Regions from separate parts of the Homo sapiens genome. Here region 2 is linked to region 1. Evidence: fine-mapped expression QTL. A gene starts in region 1. The other region holds a variant in brackets. All regions are shown on one strand. Distances are between the middles of the regions. Region 1 holds the start of LINC01735 (long intergenic non-protein coding RNA 1735). Region 2 has its middle 59 kb from the start of LINC01717.

What was found. PIP is the estimated chance that this variant, and not a neighbour inherited with it, causes the effect.
Region 2: its variant is fine-mapped to the expression of LINC01735 in cerebral cortex (GTEx, PIP above 0.99). The same link has a PIP of 0.9 or more in prefrontal cortex.

Annotation. Positions count from the first base shown.
Region 1 is chr1:208,608,962-208,619,898 of GRCh38, reverse strand. It overlaps LINC01735 (long intergenic non-protein coding RNA 1735), which reads left to right and starts at 5,777. Exons shown (of 2, transcript XR_001738430.2): 1 at 5,777-7,809. RefSeq lists enhancers at 6,956-7,125, 7,026-7,195.
Region 2 is chr1:208,782,450-208,793,386 of GRCh38, reverse strand. No RefSeq gene overlaps it. Among named protein-coding and RNA genes, the nearest start is that of LINC01717, 59 kb to the right of the region's middle. The variant C/T (reference allele first, on the strand shown) is at 5,729.

The DNA of each region.
Region 1 (10,937 bases):
ATTGCTTTGTTTTAAGCCTTTGTGTGTATTTGTAGGCTGTGTTTCTTGTAGGCAACATATCAATGGGTCTTGTTTTTTTTTTTAAATCTATTCAGCCGGTCTATGTCTTTTGATGGGAGAGTTTAGTCTATTTACATTCAATGTTATTACTGGTAAGTAAGGACATACTCCTGCCATTTTGTTATTTGATTTCTGGTTGTTTTTTGGTCTTCTCTTTCTTCTTTCTTTCCTTTCTATCTTCCTCTAGCAGAGGTGATTTTCTCTGATCATATAAAGTAGTTCCCGGCTTTTTATTTTTTGTGAGTCCATTGTATGTTTTTTGGTCTGAAGTTACCATGAGGCTTGAAAATGCTATCTTATAAATAACCTATTATTTTACCGAATAACAACTTAACATTATTTGCATAAACAAACAAACAAGCAAAAAGAAAACTAATAAAACTCTATGCTTTAACTTTGTCTCCTCACTTTTTAACTTTTGGTTGTTTCCATTTATATCTTATTGTACTGATGATGTCTTGAAAAGTTATTTTAGTTATTATAATTTATTGGTTATTTTTGAGTCTTTTTACTTAGGATGAAAGTAGTTTACACACCACGGTTACAGTGTTATGATATTCTTTGTTTTTCCATTTACTTACTATTACCAGTGAGTTTTGTACCTTCAGGTGATTATTTATTGCTCATTAATGTCTTTTTCTTTCTGATGGAACTACTCCCTTTAGCACGTCTGGTAGGAAAGGTCTGGTATTCATGGAATCCCTCAGGTCTTGTTTGTCTGAGAAAATACTTATTTCTCCTTCATGTTTGAAGGCTATTTCTGCCTGATATACTATTCTAGGGTGAAATATTTTTGTTTTTGTTTTTGTTTTTGTTTTCCTTCAGCACTTTAAATATGTCATGCCACTCTCTCCTGGTTTGTAAAGTTTCCCCTGAAGTTTGCTGCCAGACATATTGGACCTCCATTTTATGTTATTTGTTTCTTTTCTCTGGCTGCTCTTAGGATCCTTTATTTATCCTTGACTTTTGGGAGTTTGATTATTAAATGCCTTGAGGTAGACTTTTTTGGGTTAAATCTGCTTGGTGTTCTATAACCTTCTTGTACTAGCATATTGATATCTTTCTCTAGGTTTGGGAAGTTCTCTGGTCTTGTTCCTTTGAAAAAACATTCTACCCATATCTCTTTCTCAACCACTTCTTTAAGACCAAAAAGTCTTAGATTTGCCCTTGAGATTATTTTCTAGATCCTGTAGGCAAGCTGCATTGTTTTTTATTTTTTTAATTTTGTCTCCTCTTACTCTGTATTTTCAAATAGGCTGTTTTCACGCTCTCTAATTCTTTCTTCTGCTTGATAAATTCTGCTATTAAAGGAAAATCTGATGCATTCTTCAGTATGCCAACTGAATTTTTCAGTTCCAGAATTTCTGCTTGATTCTTTAATTATTTCAATCTCTTTGTTACATTTATGTGATAGAATTCTGAACTCCTTCTCTGTGTGATCTTGAGTTTCTTTGAGTTACTTCAATGCAGCTATTTTGAATTCTCTATTTGAAAGGTCACATATCTCTGTTTCTCCAGTATTGGTCCCTGGTGCCTTATTTAGTTCATTTGGTAAGGTCATGTTTTCCTGGACGGTGTTGACGCTAGTAGATGTTCTTTGGTGTCTGGGCATTGAAGAGTTAGGTGTTTATTGTAGTCTTCACTGTCTGGGCTTATTTGTAGCCATCCTTATTGGGAAGGCTTTCCAGATATTTGAAAAGACTTGGGTGTTGTGATCTAAGCTGTATCTGCTTTAGGAGACACCCCAGGCCCAATAATGCTGTGATTCTTGCAGACTCATAGAGGTACTGACTTGATGGTCTTGGACAAGATCTGGGAGAATTCTCTGGATTACCGGGCAGAGACTCTTGTTCTCTTTCCTTACTTTCTCCCAAACAAATGAAATCGTTCTCTCTGTTCTGAGCCACATAAAGCTGGGGGTGGAGTGACACAAGCACCACCAGCAATACAACTGGGCTGGGTCAGACCTGAATCCAACACAGCTCTGGGGCTCGCCCAAGGCCTGCTGTAACCATTCCCTGGCTACTGCCTATGTTCTCTAAAGGCCCTGGGGCTCTGCGATCATCAGGTGGTAAAGCCAACCAGGCCTGTATTCTTCTTTTCAGGATAGTGAGGTCCCCCAGGCCCCAGGTGGGTCCAGAGGTGCTATCCAAGAGTCAGGGACTAGAGTCAAAGACCTTAGAGGTCTATCTGGTGTTACTGTATTACAGCTGTGCTGGCACTCAAACCATAAGACACAGTCCTTCCCACTCTTCCCTCCCCTTTCTAAGGGCAAAGGAGCCTCTCCCTGTAGCCACCACCACCCCAGGCCACAAGGAGTACTGCTGGACTACCACCCATGTTTCCTTAAGGTCCAGGGGCACTTCAGTCAGCTCATGGTGAATGCTGCCTGGCCTGGAACTCACCCTCTAGGACAGTGGGCTCCCTGCTGGCTTCAGTCAGGTCCAGAAATGCTGTCCAAGAGTCAAGTCTTAGAATCAGGAATCCCAAGAGCCTGTTTGATGCTTTGCCCCTCTGTGGCTGTGCTGGTATCTAAGGTGCAGGACAAAGTCCCCTTTACTTCTGCCTCTGCTTTTCTCAAGCAGGAGGAGTTTTGCCCCATAGTCATTACAGCTGGGAATGGGCTGAGTTTCACTTGAAGCCAGCAAGTCTCAGAGGCTGACCCAAGGCCCTTGATGTAGTACCTGGGTATTGCTGCTCGTTATTTAGGGCCCTAGGGCTCTTCAGTTAGCAGGTGATGCATGCTCCCAGGACTTGGTCCTTTCTTTCAAGGGAGTGGGTTCCCTTCTGGCCCAGGGTGTGTTAAGAAATGTTGTCTAGGAGCTAGGGCCTGGAATGGGGGCCTCACAACTTTGACTGGTGTCCAATCCTGTTGTGGATGAGCTGGTATCCAAGATGCAAGACAAAGTCCTATCCACTTTTCCCTCTCCTCTCCTCAAGTGGAAGAAGGGGGTCTCTTTTGGAGCCACGAACTGTGGAGCCTGGGGTTAGGGGAAGGGTGATGCCAGCACTCCCTTGGCTGCCCCAGCTGGTGCCTTAGTAGGTTGCATCCACGCCACCTCCCCACCACGCCCACCCCAGTCCACTGCTTCTGGGCCTAATTCAACACTAGGACTAGTCTAAGAATTGCAGTCCTTATGGTTTAGACTGCCTTTCAAGTTTACTTGGAGTCACAGAGCACTGTAGCCCTCTGTGGTGAGATTTGCAGGCACAAGTTCTGACTGCTGGGATCCATGACTGGCTTCTGTTTAGGGCTGGTTTAAATGCACCCTCTGTGGGCAGACATCAGCTGAGTTTGACCCAGTTCTCCTTTCTGCTCTAACAGGACAACACTGAGTTCAATGCCTCAGAATTGCTGGGTTCTCCCTGCCCCAGCACCCAAAGAGGCTCTCTGCACCAGGCCACTGCTGCCAGGGGTGGGAGAGGGGTGGCGTCAGCAACTCAGGACTGTTTCTTTCTACCTCTTCAGTGCCTTTTTCAGCACTTTCTACCTTTCTACCTTTTTCAGCACTAAGAAGTTAAAACCAGGTACTATGAGTGCTCGCCTGTTTATTGGTTCTTATGAAGGTGTTTTTTTTCTGTGTAGATAGCTGTTAACTTGGTGTCCTTGTCTGGGGGAATGATCAGTGAAGCCTTCTCTAACACCATCTTGCTTCACCTCCTATTCTGCCCAGGTTTTAACGAGCCTTCTTGCTGCGGGTTGATGAGGGCCAGAATATCATGCAGATTTTAATTCTAAGAGATTAAGATGTTAAACCCTTCTATTCAGCTAGAGCACAATAAAGAGTAGTTTTTGCAATAGTAATTAGTCTTCCAAGTAAGGCAGGTACTATGGGTCTGGTGGTTGGCACCTGCTTTCCAGCTCCTATAAGAACTGTTTTGTTTGTCTTAGAGTAATAAACACAAACTGCTTTTATAACTTGAAAAAAAACTCAACAAAATCCACTGCAGCTTGAGAACAACCTGAAATTCATTGTCTTTCTATGTTATTTCCTCATTAGAGCTTTGACCTACTCATTTCTAACCCATGAGCTTCAGGTTTTTTAATCTACAAAATAGAGCCATTGCGGTAAATACCAGTCCAACAAGACCTGAGGTTAACACATCTCAGAAGAAGTAAACACCTGCCATGAGCTGCTTCTGTGCACCATTGGTATTGATGAGGGAAGGACTTAATGACCCAGAGTGAGTACAACATATCTGCATGTGGGGCATGATATTCCCCAGAGAGTTCAATAGGAAGCAACAAGCAAGCCAGAGAGAAACTGTAGTATTATACAGTCAGTTGGTAGGAATGTCAAAAGAGGCAATGAAAAAGATTTTCAGGAATGGAGACAAACCTCTGTAGGACCACAGAGAAGCTGAATGCCTTCCCTCTCTAGGGTGTACACATCTTCTTTCATTTATAGCTCACTTGTCAAGATTTTAGATGAAGCAAATTATTTTTCCTCTTTGCTAGTAAAAATCCCATAAATGCTAGCCAAGGTAATTGTTTTAGCAGTCACTCCTGCAACCCAGCTATGCTTAGGGAAATCTACCAATGATACCATTTATTGAGTACCACTGTATGATAAGCCCGCTCCATGTGTTATCTTATATGATCATCCTAATAACCCTCTGGTATAGGGGTTAGCATCTCTATTTTATGTATCAGGTATTTAGCCCCTGTGTGGTTAAGTCACATACGCAAGACCATATGCTTAGTAAACAGGACAACTGGCATTGGAAACCAGGATTGTCCTAATTAAAAGAGAATCAGGGGCCAGGGGCAGTGGCTCATGTCTGTAATCCCATCTATTTGGGAGGCTGAGGCGGGAGGATCACTTGAGGCCAGGAGTTCGAGATCAGCCTGGGCAACAAAGTAAGCATCCATCTCTACTCTCTCCTTTTCCCTCTCCTCTCCTCAAGTGGAGAATAAAGTGGAAATAAATAAATAAAAACAGAATTTAAAAAATTAGCTCAGCCTAGTGGGCATGTACCTTTAGTCCCAGATACTTGAGAGGCTGAGTTGAGAGGATCACTTGAGCCGAAGAGTTCAAGGCTAGGGTTGTGCCACTACATTCCAACCTGGGAGAAAGAATGAGGCCCTGTCTCTTAAGAGAGAGAAGAAATCAATAGTTGTGGATTTGAACCTAGTTATGGAAGAATTGTGAAGTAATTTCAGACAAAAAGTATTTCCTATTGAGAACAAATCAGTTAAGTGAAAGATAGAAGTAAGAAAAATGAACCAACATGTATTGAGTGTTCCCTCTTAACCTGCCTTTCATTCCCACAACATATCAGGCTCGTCTAGCACTCAACATTAGCACTTTCTCTGCTACATTACCTTGCCTCTCAGCAAGAAATGTGTTCTCACTTGTATTATTTTTATTCCTACCCTTTCATCTCCCTCTCCCTCCCTCCATGTCCAGTGAACTTCCCAGAAAGTTGGGCATAACAGTTATAGCAGATAATAATTCTATGTAACATTTATTGATCACTTTCCAGGTACCAGTTTCTGTGTTGAGCTCTTTATGTGGATCTTACAATTTAATCATCAAAATACCCATAAAGATGATGATATTTTATCCCCATCTTCTGGATGAGAATATTGCACCACATTTTTTCTTCTCTCCTCCTTACTTCCCAATTGCATTAAAATATTTTTCTTTGGATTCAGGGATCATGGCCTGGGGAGAAACACAGCTTTTTGTAGAAGTAAAAATGTGAACACAGATACAATTCTTCATTTTCCCCAAACACACCATGCAATGCAAAGATGCTACTTTTTGTCTGCAATGATTCTACCTATTGTTAGTTCACTGCATCCTCAGAGTCAGTGCACAGGCAGGAGAGACTGAGATTATTTAGATTCTCATAGTACAGCATATAATGAGGAAGACAGGCTAGGATGCCATGGGTGCCACATTAGTGCCTTCTTTAAGGTTCTGATATACAAGCAGCCCTGCCCCAGTTGGTTTGTATTTAAAAGAAGATCATTTATTAAGGTGCTGATATACAAACTCTGTCCCACCCGAGTTGGCTTGTGTTTAAAAGAGGATCCTGACAAGTCTACCTAAAGAAGATGAAAGAGATATTGGGGGCAGGGGACAATGGACTAGCTAATGTGCAGAAATAAACTTTACAGCTCTAGGCCAGGGCCACCATAAAACTCTTCCACACTGTGCAGCACACATTATGACGGAAACAACATGCCTTGGCTGGTGGCTTTGCTCCGTGTTCCTCAAGAGAGCTCTGGGTTGCAAACTTGCCTGCTCCCTGGCTGTCTCATCTTTTACATGTGAGGACCACAATTCCTGACCTTTGCAGTGGCTGTAAACTTTGAGACAGGAAGGCAGGATCTGCAGCTTGCCAGGGGCCTCGGAGGACTCTGGTGGCCCATGCAGCTCTATGGGCTTGGAACTTGAGCTCATTGAGGATGTCACCTACAGATAAACAAGTGACACGTCTTGAACACATTGCAAACAACTTTTAAAGGTCATCTCATCCATGCCTCTGTCTCTTCTTTGGAAGACTTCAAAATTATTTCAGAGTGAAAATGTCTCCTGTTTTCAAAAATTGCCAAATATAAATTATATGAATGAGTTTGTTTAAACAACTTAGAGGACCAAAATAAAAAATTTTCTTAAGTCTAATCAGTCGTGCTTCAGGAACATAGGATGTTTCCTCTTGTTCTGCCTTTTGGAATGGTGAAGGGTATTTCACTGACATCTTGAATCATTTAGAGGGACTTAGGATTCAATTTAATACAATAAATATTTACTGAGCTTCTACGTATCTGATACTGAAATGGGGCCGAGAGGGTCACAAAGTTGATGATCTGGGCTTCTTTCTCATCTCAAGAAGCATAATTCCCACATCACTCATGATGCAGAGTGTGGTAAATGCCACATAGTAAGGCCACAAGGAGAGGGTTTGGAGCCATTGATGTTACCTAGAATCAAATAATTCTATGGTGGAGACAAAGATACTCAGGAGAGCACCTGCATCTCATCTGGACCAAAAGGAATGGACACAACTGTCTGGATGAGCTGTGGCACAGGCATTCTGCCAAGAAGAGGAAGCTGGCAGAAGAGGCCTTGGTAAGTCTGAATTCTTGCCTCAGTTCTGGTACTGAGTTCTCCCTGCACATTACATTCCTACTGTGAACCATTCACTCCTCCCTTCCTCCATTAATTTATCTAATTGATATCTATTAAACAAATGCCTACCATGTTCTTGACCCTGAGCCACATGTGAGAGATTCACCAGGCAACAAGACAGATGGGAGGAGCCCCACTGCTATGGTCAAATGTTTGTGTTTTCCCAAAATTCGTATGTTGAAACCTAACTCCCAAAATGATGGTGTTAGAAAGTGGGACCACTGGGAGATGATTAGGTCATGAGGGATTAACATCATTATAGAAGAGACCCCAAAATGTTAGCTGGTCCTTTCACCACATGAAGACACAGCTAGAAGACACCACCTATTAACCAAAAAGTGGGCGTCAGCAGACACCAAATCTGTTGGCACTTTGTTCATGGACTCCCTAGGCTCCAGTACTGTCAGAAATAAATGTCTGTTGTTTATAAGCCACCTAGTTTATGGTATTTTGTTATAGCAAGCCAAATGGACTAAGACACCCCACCCTTGTGAAGGCGACAGAGGACTAGAAATAATGAACAAATCTGCACTGAGCATAACCCATGATGCATAGTACTGCAGAACAGTGCTGTACAGTGCTCTTCAGGGCCTCACAGGAGGTGCAGGTAATAAATGTAACAGTCTGAGATCATGTTAAAATGTTGCTCCATCCCTGCTTCATCCCTTCACTATCTGTCATCGTGTACTATTCAGGGTTTTTTCATAGTAATTATATATATTTAACATTTTATTACATTGTTTATTGCCTGTCTCTGTCATGTGAATAGAAATTCCATAAGGGCAGAATTTTTGTCTCATTCAGCACTCTATTCTCATTGCCTAAAATCATGTCTGGCACATGACAGGAACTCAAATTCCTATCTATCTATCTATCTATCTATCTATCTATCTATCTATCTATCTATCATCTATCTATCTATCTATCTATCTATCTATCTATCTATTTAGCTAGGTAGCTATTTAGCTAGGTAGCTATCTACCTACCTACCTACCTATCAATATAGCTATCCATCCATCCACCTACCTACCTACCTTCCTACCTATTTATAATCTATTTAATTCTTTATTTACTTATGATAGCCTAGAGAAGCTAATGAATTCTTAGAGGCAATTAATTATCTTAAGAGTTCAGAGAAGAAAGAAGTAAACATATGAAAAGATGCTTAATTAACATCATTAGTCATTACAAAACTGCAAATTAAAAGCACAATGAGAAACCACTATACGCCTATTAGAATGGCTAAAATTAAAAAGACTAGCCATACCAAATACTGCAACAAGTGGAACTCTCAAACATTGCTAGTGGAAGTGTAAAATGATACAACCACTTTAATGATACAACCACTTTGGAAAATGTAGTTGTATCATTTTGGTACTTACTTAAAAAGTTAATCATATATTTACCATAAGATCCAGCTATTTAACTTCTAGGCATTTACCCAAGAGAAATGAAAGCATATGTCCACATGCTATGGTGTAAATGTATTCCCCTAAATTCATGTGTTAGAGATGGAGGTGAGAGGATCACTTGAGGCCAGGAGTTCAAGACCAGCCCGGGCAGCATGGCAGGACCTTACTTCTACAAAACAATTTTAAAAGTAGCTGGGCATGATGACACATGCTTGTGGTCCCAGCTACTCAGGAGGATAAGGTGGAAGGATCACTTGAGCACCAGAGTTGGAGGCTGCAGTGAGCTATGAATGTGCCACTGCACCCAAGCCTGGGTGACAGAGTAAGACACTGTCTCTAAAAAGAAGAAACACAGAAACTTAATTTACAATGCAACAGTGTTGGGAGGGGGAGTCTTTTGGGAGGTGTTTAGCTCATGAGTGGTCTGCCTCATGAATAGGTTAATGCCCTTACAAAAGGACTTGACAGAGGAAAGTTAGCCTCTTTTTACTCTTCCTCCTTCTTCCACATGAGGACACAGCGTTCCTCCCTTCCTGAAGACACAGCATTCAAGGTTCCAGCTTGGAAACAGACAGTAGCCTTCACCAGATGCTGGTGTCTTTATCTTGGACTTCTCAGCCTTGAGAACTGTGAGAAATGAATTTCTGTTGTTTATAAATTACCCATTCTCAGGTGTTCTGTAACAGCAGCATAGACTAAGACACGACACTAAGATTTATACATGGATGTTCATAGCAGCCTTGTTTGTAATAATAAAAAACTAGGAACAACCCAAATGTCCATCAGCGGTTATAAACAAACTGTAGCGCATCCATGCAATGGAACACTGCTCAGCAATTAAAAGGAATGCATGACTGTGTGAATGAAGCCAGAACAACAAAAACTGTGCAAACTGTATGACTTCATTTACATAAAATTCTAGGACATGGAAACCAATCAAGAGTGACAGAAAGATCAGTGGTTGCCTAGGGGCTAGTGTCAGGGCTGCAGAGAGGGACAGAGAGGTGCCACAAAAGGAAACTTTTGGAGACAGTGAACATGTTCATCATCTCAATCATGGTGATGGTTTCACAGTTATATATTTATACAAAAAAATTGAATTGTAAATTTTGAATACATGCAGTTTATGTGTGTTATTTATACATCAATTAAAAATGAAAAAAATAAAAGCTACGCTTTTGGCAATTTAAAAATTTCAACGTTGCTCTGTGAATATGCAAGTCCGGCAAGACATTTACGTGTCTTATAGATTAGACTGTAATGATAAGGCATCTACTTCCACCTGGAAGAAGTTTTAAGAAGAATGCTAGTTAATGTGTATTGAGAATTTGTTATGTGTCTACAGGCAGGCTATGTATATACACTATGTGAGTTAGGCCCCAAAACAATTGTGAGGTGGTTCCTATTATTATCTCCATTTTCAGTTGATAAAATTGAGGCTCAGGAAATTTAATAACTTGCCAAAGACCTCAGGACTGCTAACTGGTATAATAAAAATTTGAAAACAGGCTCATTTGATAGTTGAATTGAGCCTCTTAATTTCTATGCTATTGGTAATAGGTACTTAGTTTTTAGAGAAATTTAGAATGGGTTGGAGGGGTTTTGGAAGGAGACAGTTGAGTCTAGTGCTAAGTATTTACTAGGTATTAGTAAAATACTTAGTTCAAATATTAATTTTGCAAATCTAAAGTATAAAGCAATGTGTTGTGATTCTATACTTAGAAATTCTTAAAACTGTCCTCTTATATATTTCAAATTTGACCTCTTTCTTCCATCTCTACCTCTATACAAAAAAATAAATGCCGTCATAACCAGTGCCACCATAACTTCTTGCCTGGATAATTGCTCAGCCTCCGGCTGGTGTTCCTTGCTTATATGTTCCACATAGCAGCCAGGATGATCATCTGAAACCTGAAATAATATCTTATCACTTTCTTTCTGAAAGCCATCTAGTTTTTTTAGGACATTTAAAATAAAATCCAAACTTCTAATCCTAATTTTACTATGTACTTCTTTTGAAAACCCCAAATGACAGTCTCGCTCTGTTGCCCAGGTTGGAATGCAGTGGCTATTCACAGATGCAGTTGAAAAGCACTGCAGCCTTGAACTTCTGGCCTCAAGGGATCCTCCACCTCAGCCTCCCATGAACTGGGACTGTAGGCACACAATACCATGGTGGGCTTCCTACATACTCTTCTCTGATCTTGTCTTCTGCCATGCTCTCCCAGACTCTCTACTCTTAGTGTTACTAACCTTCTTTCTGTTTCCCAAACACATAAAATGAGTTCTGCTATGGTTTGAATGTGTCCTCTCCAAAATCTTG
Region 2 (10,937 bases), 170 kb before region 1:
ATGTAGCCATCTAATTTGGTGTCATCAAAAGACAGTGAAACACATTTGATGCTGTCTAGTCCAGCTCTCCATATTGTAGATACCCACAACATCTGACTGACAGATCTGTCAAACAGATGTTTGTGAAGACCTAGCCACCAATGCAGCAAAGCAGATCAGGTAACCTGTAGCATGTCTTTCTCTGTAATCTGAACATTGATGCTTTAGTCGGGTTCTAGATTATGCATCATCCATGTCACCGCTTTAACTTCATGCAGGTAGCTCATTTCTTGTATGTAAATGGATTAAATTTAGTTATCAATGGCAAAACAAAACAAAACAAAAAAACCTTATAATTGGGACAGACCATTCAGTCACCTCTGTGATTTGATTTTTTGTCTAATGCTGCTAAGGCCTTTTTACCTAAGTATTGCTATCCTGGTTCTACATTGCTGCAAACTTAACTTTTACTAGCTGCCAATCCCCACTGACTGCCTTCCTTTTATACCTCTTAACCCATCCTTAAAACCAAACAAAACTAGCCCTGGGAATGATATATTGTGATAAACACATTTGTTTGTATTGATGTACCAGATCATCTGATGGTAGTTGAACATTTCTCCACTGAGAGCTGATCCATGTTTATGTATAAAAAGATCTAATATTGTCCATCCTTCCCAAATTAATTTATGAAATGAATACAGTTCTGATCAAAAGTGTACTTTTTGTCTAGGTAAAATAATTCTAATGTTATTCTAGAAGAGCCAATAGAAATGAAGCTGAGTAATTTTTTTTATTTTTATTTATTTATTTATTTTTTTAGACGGAGTCTCACACTTTCGCCCAGGCTAGAGTGCAGTGGCACGATCTCTGCTCACTGCAAGCTCTGCCTCCCGGGTTCACACCCATTCTCCTGCTTCAGCCTCCTGAGTAGCTGGGACTACAGGTGCCCGCCACCACGCCTGGCTAATTTTTTGTATTTTTAGTAGAGACGGGGTTTCACTGTGTTAGCCAGGATGGTCTGGATCTCCCGACCTCGTGATCTGCCCACCTCGGCCTCCCAGAAGCTAAGTTATTTTTGAAGACGAGTAAAGGAGGTTTACACTATTTGATATCCAAATATATTATAAAATTTAATACGTAAGCAGTATGATAATGACATGGGAATAGAAAGATCAATGGAAGATTATTTTAGACTTCAATATCTTTGGATTTTCATTTGCAAGGGAATCTAACTCTTTGGAAATTTGAACATTGGTGAAAGTTTACAATCAAATTTGGGCCATCTCAATGTTGTTGGTATTTTATTATTGAAGCCTTTTATTTGTCTTACTATTGGAGCATCTTTTATGTCATATTTAATCTCATGGCAGAATCTCTGATACTGTATATTGGACAATGTAAGTAGACATAATTTAGGATGAGAAATAGAATAAGGAGTTTTCAACTCCAGTAGGAGAGCCTTGAAATTGATTTGATTAATGTGCTGTTTTGATCCATCTTAGAGTCTTCTGGAAGCAAACTCCCAACTCCCCTCAGAAAGGATACCCAAAAGAGCAGCAACCAGTGTTGGGGAAAGGAGCCTTAAGAAGGCAAACATAGAACTCTCTTGATAGATTGCAGTTCTCCCCTGGGGAGATAGCCACACCCATTACTCTTAATGATTAAACCTAATAGAGAAATAAGCCTGAGCAATGTGAGAGAGGAATGTCATTTTTCCATTCCTGGGATTCTTTATGGACAGATTGTCTGTAACCACTCTTGGCCTCTCATTCATTCAGCCAAGGGAGGAGGGAGTAACTTGGCTGATTAGCACATTTGGAAAGAATAAACCAAGCTTGCTAGACCCAGCACACTCCTTTTTTTTTCTTGAGTACTAAGTATGGAAGCCAGAGATTCCCTCTGAGTCTCCAGTCTGTAAGTCTTACCTGAGAAGGCAGCCCTGGAGAGAGAAACTGCCTGGGACTGAGCAGCTACATTAATTTAGGGGTTCAGTTCACAGAGTCTACTTGGCTCTCCCACTAAACTACATTTTCTAACTCCTCTATTAACAATAACAAACGTGATATTTTGACCCATCTGCCCTACTGATTTTTATTTCTCAATTTATTCAGAACCCAAGTAGGCCAGAGGATACTATATCCATATTGAGCCTTTTCAGACACTCCAACAATAATGTTTGGTAAACATTTTTTTTTTTGATCTTTCAAATTAGATACTCACTGGCTAGTCTACAGAATATTAGGAGTTTTTTTTTTATGCTAACAGATGCTGTTTGAAAAAGAACTACATGGTTAAATCGTAATTCTAGGTAAAGCAAGATAAAATAAGTATCTGTACAGCAGGACTTCTTGAAACCTTAAAATGGAACTATGCTCTGTGAATCTTAATAAGGAACTAGATTATCCAGCATTTCTCAAACATATGTATATCTGCCAGAACTTATTTTATTTTTCAGAATCCTGAAGCAGTAGTGTACCATGGAACACATTTAGGGAAATGCTGAATAATTCCATAAACATATTAGATCAGTTGGCAGTTTGCAAAGAAAAAACAAAATAGCTACCTATGCAGTATATAAAACTAAATTATAAATGAATTTTTAAAAGTAAAAAATGAAAATAGAAAATACTGGTGAATATAAAAATCTCAGAAGGGGGAATTTTTTTCAAACATTCTAGTAAAAAAGAACCATAACAGAATAACTGATTCAACTTACCTAACATTAACATTTTATATAAATAACAACAACAACAACAACAAAATGCATAATTAGAGGGGGAAAAAAAGCAAGTACCAAGCTAGGAACAAGATATATTTTTAAATACATGTGACAATGGTTTCATATATGACAACTCTCACAAATGAACCAAAATAAAGAGGTGATTCTTCCTTTTCTGGAACCCAGGTAAAATAAAAATAATAATAAAAACAAAAGGTGAATATCCCAGGAGCAAAATGAGAGAAATACATGATTTGACAATGCACAAAAAGAAATATAACTTATAACTTATAAGAGATAATATCTGATTTCACTGGTAGTCAAAATTGTAATAAAAATAATGATATAATTTTTTTACTTTACTTTTAGAGATTATACTTATTTATTGTTTTTACTTTAGTAAAAAAGATCACTATCCTATATTGTTAGTTATGGGAATATAAACTGGTAGATTATAACTTCTGGAGAGAAACTTGACAATATGTTTAAATGTCTTAAAAATGTACATAATCTCTGACTCTGCAATTTCACCTCTAGAAATTTATTCAAAGGAGATGATCAAGGATGCTTGAAAAGATTTATATTCAAGCATGACCACTTCATCATTGCTTATAATACCAAAAATGGGAATATTTGTAATGTTCTATAATAAATATGACAAATTCATGAGCCAGAATACTACGCAGTCATTAACAATTATGTTGTACAAGAATATTTAATGATCTGGGGAGGTCATAATGATATAGTAAGTAAAACAGCTGTTGTAAAACCAGAAATACAGTATCATCCCATTTTATTAGAAAATATGCATAGTGTGGCCGGGCCTGGTGGCTCATGCCTGTAATCTTAGCACTTTGGGGCCAAGGCAGACAGATCTCTTGAGCTCAGGAGATTGAGGCCAGCCTCGGCAACATGGTGAAACCCTGTCTCTACAAAAAAATACAAAAAATTAGCCAGGTGTGGTGGCACATGCCTGTAGTCCCAGCTACCCAGGAGGCTGAGGTGGGAGGATCACCTGAGCCCAGGAGGTTGAGGCTGCAGTGAGCCATGATGGTGCCACTGTATTCCAGCCTGGGCAACACGGTGCATACCCTCTCTCTCAAAAAAAAAAAAAAAGGAAATTTACATAGTAAAAAAGCCTATACATTAAAATATAAATAGTGATTATATCTGCGTAGGTGGAATTATGTACTACTTTTTTCTTCTTTGTGTTTTACAGTATTTTTCAGTTTTTTGCAATTAAAGTTTATTGCTTTTTGCAATCAAGAAAAATAAAAGATAAATTGCAAAAGGGATATATCAGTAAAGATTGCATTCTACAAAGAACAAATCTGTGTGCATACTGTATTAAAATCTCATAATTAGTGAAACATTAGCCTACTAAGGTTTTAAATGGAATGGGTCATGGCCTTGCTGTATTGTGTAGAGCCCAAAACAATATAGACATTTAAATCAATGTAATTTTTAGTGCTTAACAATCACCTTTAGATTTGCATGATCTGAATGAGTGGCCCTTTGGGTTATATACGGACTGTGACAGTTACCCAGCTTCAGGTTACAAGCATGCAAGACCATAAATCAAACCATTTCCTGATGTAAACAGGTCTCACAAATTTAGACTTCTCAAATACTCCATGAAGTCCAAATTTAACAGCCGTTTCAGCTAGAACAACCATCAGCAACCCCCCGAAATCTGCATCTAAACTATCCACATTATCTGAACATCTCTACAACCATCAGGTCTGTTTACTCGGAATCTAGGGATAAAGGGTTAGTGGAAAAGAAAAGAAAATTGTCCCACTTGGCTATCTCACATAATATAACAAAGAGGGCAAGACCCTCGATTCTGCAGATAGCCTGAAAAAGATTGTCTTAGATCCGAAGTGGAAACACTCTGTTTATCTGGTTCAGATTCCTATTCTCTTATTATGCTCAGTGAGGCCATGTCATTTAAAGCTATTTCTTTCTACCACTGTCTCTTTTAAAGCAACATCTGCAGAATTAAATTCCATGCACTGACAGGGATGCTTTCAAAAGCTCAGAATCAATTCTTCAATCATTCCACTTTCTTAGCTGTGATTAAAAACATGTGTCCCCTAATTAAGCTAATGAGAAACTGTTAATTGGCACAAAGCCCCCTCCTGTGCACACTTGTTAATGTCACCCTCACTTTGACAGGAGAAAGGATCAAAATCAAGGGCAGAGAGTTCTTAAGTGACTTCAATATTGGACTTAAGGAGAGGAGCTTTATTTGGGATGCTAAGGCTGTCAGTTGTACGACTTGCATGGAGGAATAAGGAATGTCATTTTGCTGCTAATTTTATAAGGAAGCAGAAGGAAGGGATGCAAATAGGACAACAGTTGATATGTTGATTTCTTTTTTCTTCCTCACAGAAATGATGGCATTCAATTCTCTTATTTGCTTTCTATGCAAGAATGAATCTACATGATAAGCCACAACAGAGTAGGAAAGCATCCCTCTCTGAAGGAACACTAGGAAGGAGCCCTCCCTGTAGACCCATCTAGTTTCCTCTTTGTCTCTAATGAGCAATATCATTATTTCATCTTCCCCTGCACCCAAGGCTCCTTGTGGATAGGAGAGGTATGCTTTGCCAGAGGAAGCACATGCTTTGATAAGATTATTTTTTATATTTTTCTAAAATTTCCATTTTGGAAAAACTAGAATTCTTTACTTGCCTAGTTTGTCCCTAGCTTTTCTTATGTAACTTTGCATACCAGCAATGATTCATTCCTAAAGTCTCAGAATCTTCTGAAGATGAAAAAATGTCCTGCAACGGGGAGGCTGGACCAGAGCTTATGGAGGACTGACAAGAGAGCTGTTATCAAGACAGCAGGCCACAAATGAGGACTCAGAGACCATGAACTTGTCTTGGTTCAGAGCAGCTCATTCCAGGAAATGGATCTCTCTGCCTTAAGTAGCCCTGGGTCGATTCTTGGGGAAAGAGACAAGCCTGGAGGCCAGGGTAACTCAGGTTATTAACCAAAGCTCTGAAAACCACAGGTGAG[C/T]GAGATCTGTTGCTAATATCTGAAAGTCCATTGCTTTATGACCCATCGGTGAGGTATAGGGGTGAGGAGGTTCTGCTCATCTGGAGCCCTCTTTTTCAGTCACCTAACTGAACCAAGTGTTTATCAGACCTGTCGATCATCTGAGAGAGGAAAGAACACTTTGCAGTTTGAAGGGTGTGAGCCACTGCTGGAACCTCTGAGAATGCCTGGCAGCAAGCTGTCACCCTGATGGGTGTGTGGAGCTGGCAGCTCCTCAGGCAGCTGTTTCTATGAGTGATTTGATGAGAAAGGAGGAGGCCAGTAAGAAGAAAGCTGTTTTAGAACCAGGGGTTGGAGTTAAGGGACATGGGCAATCTAGTAGTGGTGTGTAGTGTTTTTCCTCCACCCAGTCCCATGGACTATGCTCGAGTTCAGAGAGATGATTTAAAAGGGGCTCTGAGAATCATGGGAAGGACAAGAAGCACTCAGCACCTTCAGCTAAGAAAGAATGGCAGTAAATGGGAGGCAGACTCCTGACTGCTGCAGACCTTAACCTCCCTCCGGGGAGACAGGCTCTGGCACAGATGCTGGTGTTCCACCATGTGTGCCCGCACCTCACAGAGAGGCAGCCTTCCTAGTTGATTTCTGCGCTGAGGACCTTGACAACGGTCACTGGTGCAGGAAAGGTGGAGTGCTGAGGCGACTGTGTGGTGGCTAGAGCTGTTAGGAAGCCTGTGTCTGCCCGATAAACCTGGAGAGGACCTTAGGAAAGGAGATGCCACATCGGTGCCTACAAGCTGGGGGTCCTGGGGAGATTTGAGTCACTTCCTCCTGTTAGGTGTGGCAGTGAGTGGGGAGGGTTATAGGAAGTCTTGGTGTGGGGCAAGAAAGAAGGAGGGGGTAGGAATTAGAGAGACCACTTTGGGATTGTAGACTAAAAGTCTGAAAGGCCTTTAAGATCCCATCAAATTGTGCTACATGCACCTGAGGTTGTATTAGTTCAACCTCCCCATATTTTTCCTTTCTTATAATCTCACCTGGGGAACTATAAGCACAAAATTCAATCAGAAGAACCCTTCATTAGCTTCTATCTGATGCGTAAAAGGGAAAGATAAGAATATACCAGTACGGGCTCAGTATCAACTAAGAGTTCACAGGGAGGGGAAAAGAAGACAAATTGAGTTTTCAGGAGAGAACAGGCTGTACTTGTCACACTCTCTTCCCACCTCCTGCCCCCAGGAATCCGCTAGTTAAGAAAGAGTTCTATCCTATGGTCAGAAGGCTGGGATGAATCAGCCAGGTGCGGTGGCTCATGCCTGTAATCCCGGCACTTTGGGAAGCCAATAAGGTGGATCACCTGAGGTCAGGAGTTAGAGACCAGCCCAGCCAACATGGCAAAACCCTGTCTCTACTAAAAATACAAAAAAAAAAAAAAAAGCTGGGTGTGGTGGCAGGTGCCTGTAATCCCAGCTACTCAGGAGGCTAAGGCAGGAGTTTCGCTTGAACCTGAGGGGTAGAAGTTGCGGTGAGCTGAGATCACACCACTGCACTTCAGCCTGGGCGACCGAGCAAGACTGTCTCAAAAAAAAAAAAAAGAAGGTAGGGATGAATGTTTTATTACCTAGTTTTGTAAATCAGTGAATGTGTTTATTTGAGCTAAAAACCAAACCATGACAGAGTGGGACTAGGACCAGCTAAGTCATGTTTTGATGTTTTGAGACTGATCTGAAGTAATCCCCCCCTTTTTTTTCACCCCATTGCTTCCTGCAGGGACAGGGACAAGATGAGATGATGTATATGAGAGTATTTTGTAAACTCTGAAGTACTCAGTGAATAGGCTGAAATCTGCTGAGAGTAGCAGAATAGTCCTTTTTTAAAGTAAGAAGGATAAGAAATGATTTGCATAGTTTACAAATTCTGTTAGCTCCAGTCTCCAAATGCATTCATTCTAACTCATAACTCATATCCACTACAATCAGGGCTGGTGCCCATGGCTTTGGTGTCCGTGAGTATGTCTGGCCTGGCAGGGAGGCAGAGCTAAGAATAAGAAACAAGTTGGTTATGCTCCAAATATAATAAATTTGTCTACCTTTAAAAAATAAAAAAGGATATTGAGATAGATTCTGGCTGAGTTAGATTTACAGACACTTACTCTTTTGCCTGTTTTTAAAGTAATGAAAATTCTATCTCTCCCATTGAATCTGTCCTGAACTTAACCAAGAGTTGTCTATTCCTGTCTGAAGACTCTAAGTTGCTTTAACAGGTCCTGAACCCCAACTCTCCAAAACAGAGGGATGCAGAGGCCTCTAAAACCCAGGGTCTAGGTTTCTGCCTTCCCTCCCTTCGAAACCTGCTTGCTGTTTGCTATGGGATTTCTTTTACCCAGTTGTCACCTCCAGACCATTTACAGCTGGAGCTTCTCTTCGGTTGCCATACCTAACCCTGGACACTGTTTTTGAGATAACACTTAGTTTTAAACCCTGCCCTGAAGGGTCAGTTCCATATCACTCCTGTGTCTACTGTGGACTTCTGAAAGTCAGGCTGGATCAGAGATTGAGGTCTTGTGTTGACATGGAAAGAGAGTGGACAATTCCACACTTTGATTCCAATTCTAAGAATAGCAGAGAGGAGCCAGTGTATTGTCCTAATCCAGGGCAGGTTCAGGGTGTGGACGTCCCTACTGCACCCTCCTTGCTAGAACTATGACTATCATTGGGCTTAAATGGAAGAATGAGGATGGGATTCATTTTAACCAGGCCACCTGAGCATTAAGGGAAGGAAGCCAGGGCAGGGTAATTAATACAAAGCCCTTGACTGCTGAGCTCTTCCACTTCAGCCACTGGGAATTTGTGCCATGAAATCTCCTTCTGAGGAACTTCTGTGAAGTTGCTACAGATATCCTGTAGCAACTAATTCCACCCTGATTGCACTTGGCGTGGCCTACTCTAAGGACCAATATGATGACAAGAACAGAGCAGTAAAGATAAGAGCTGAGAAGGCAGAGTGGCAGTGCTGTTTCTTTATGTTTGGATGCCTTTTGTTCCAGAATGAGGCCACCTGGTTAAGGGGGAGGAGAGGGGGGTTCTTCCTAACCACTGAGAGCTGCCCTCTCACTAAGTAAGCATCAATGACTGTGCTGTGGTTGATAGTTTTATATATATATATATATATATATATATATATATATTCTCCTTTCAAACTTAGAGACCAGTTTTTCAATGTCTAGGCCTGCGGTTGACTGGCATTCCTGACTTTGCTCTCCAAATCTATCCTGCTCTGACCATTACACACCCACATCCCTGGAGGAGCCGTGTCCTGTGGCCCACTGGGAAGTTGCGCCCCGTACAGTAGATGCACCTGACAGCAATAATTTAAGCATAGCCTATATAGCAGATACACCTGAATTCGTGTTCCAAGCTAGGGAATTTGGGCGTGGCCAACCTGGAGATTCATTCCTTGTCAATGAGGAACATCTGAGCCCCATCCCTACGTACACACCCCAGCCCATCCTGTGGAACATGGGCTGTATAGAGGATTGAAGCCCTGAGTTTTGGGTTGGATGAAGATTGCCAGGTGGAGGTTGTTAAGGGCAGGATATTAAGTGAAATGCTATATAAACTGCATGCTCTTTGCAAATGGTTGGGGTTTTCCTGCCTAGCCCACCACCACTGGGCTTTGTTGACTGTAGGTAAGGCGGTAAGGCAGACATTTTGTCCAGCTGCTGCCACTGATCTGTCTCTGTATGTAAGGCAAATCTCTTGTCCAACTCACCACCACTGGAATCTCTCCTGTCTATGTAATCCATTAATAAAACCTCATGTCTTGCTTGCTGTTCCTGGTTCTTTTCTTTGGCCTCTTGACCCTAACACCTTCCCTATTGAGGTTAATAGGGGTTTGGCACAACAGCTCCAATGCTGACACAGCCTTTATCCCCAATTTTAAAGAATTTTGGCCTCAGAATGAGCATAATATTCATTCAACAAATATTTATTGAACACCTATTATGTACCAGGCAGTGTTTTAGACACTGAGGATGCAGGCATGAAAGAAACAAAACTCCTGCCCTGATGGAACATACAGGTTGGCAGATATAGAATGAGTAAAATATATAGTGTATGGGACCATGATAAGTGCTATAGAGAAACATAAAGTAGGGAATGTGGATAGTGAAGGCAGTGGGGGGTCATTGCAAGTTTAAACAGGATAATCAAGAAAACAAGGAGGCCGGGTGTGGTGGCGTGGAGTGGAGGACCTCTCCCACTACCTTAGGCTGTCTTATGCAGAACAAGTGGGGACAAAGGTGGGAGCAAGGAGACCAGGTAGAAGTTATTGTAGTAATATAGGTGACAGATGAGGGCAGTTTGGACCATATACAAGGTGATAACAGAGGAGATGCCAAAAGTGGATTGAATGTATCTTGAAAGTAGAACCAACAGGATTTGCAGGTGGATTCAATGTGGGATGTCAGAGAGAAAAAAATCTTTCCTTGCTCTCCCAAGGGGTCTTAAGGCCTCCGGGTGGCCAGTCGGTTCAGAACATGTCCTGGGCTTGTAGATGAGGCTCCCTTTCACCCTTCAGCCCTCACTGTACACACAGAGTAAAAGAGGACTCTTGTGACCCCAAGTAAAGCTCAGGGATTAGATGATAAATCACTAGATATAAAGAAGTTAAATGAGGAGTCATAAAGGATTATCTTCCTCCCAAGTCTTGAAAAAGTATGCCTTCCTTCACATGGCGTCAGCTGGATTTTCAGAAGGCATCCTCGTGCCCACCTTATGTATGACTCCATATAACAGGAGCCTTTAGTGTAACCATTTATTGCTCTTCCCTCCCCTACCCATTCCTTTCTTTCGGATATCCTGGGAAATGTAAGTTTTTTGCTTTTTGTTTTTGTTTTCAACGTAGGAGCATTTATGGATCTTCCTTGCACAGGGTAAAAAAGAGTTCGTTTTATTAAAGTACTCATAAAAGAAGCTAAGTTAATAAAAGAGAGAGTTGGGGGAGACAAGGGAGCCACAGGCTTTCAGAGTAGCATGTTTTAAGTGTTTTTGCAGCTCAGTTCCCCCCCGCTCTCTTCCCCAACCAGCTATTACTGCAGTATTTTTGCTCACATCAGCGACTTTCCACCTCATCTTTCTTTCTCACAGGTAGTTTTGAAACCTAATTTCAACCTGTTTGGATGAGATGCCAGCACTTGACTGGAGCCCGGCCTCTGCCAGCAATTTGGTGC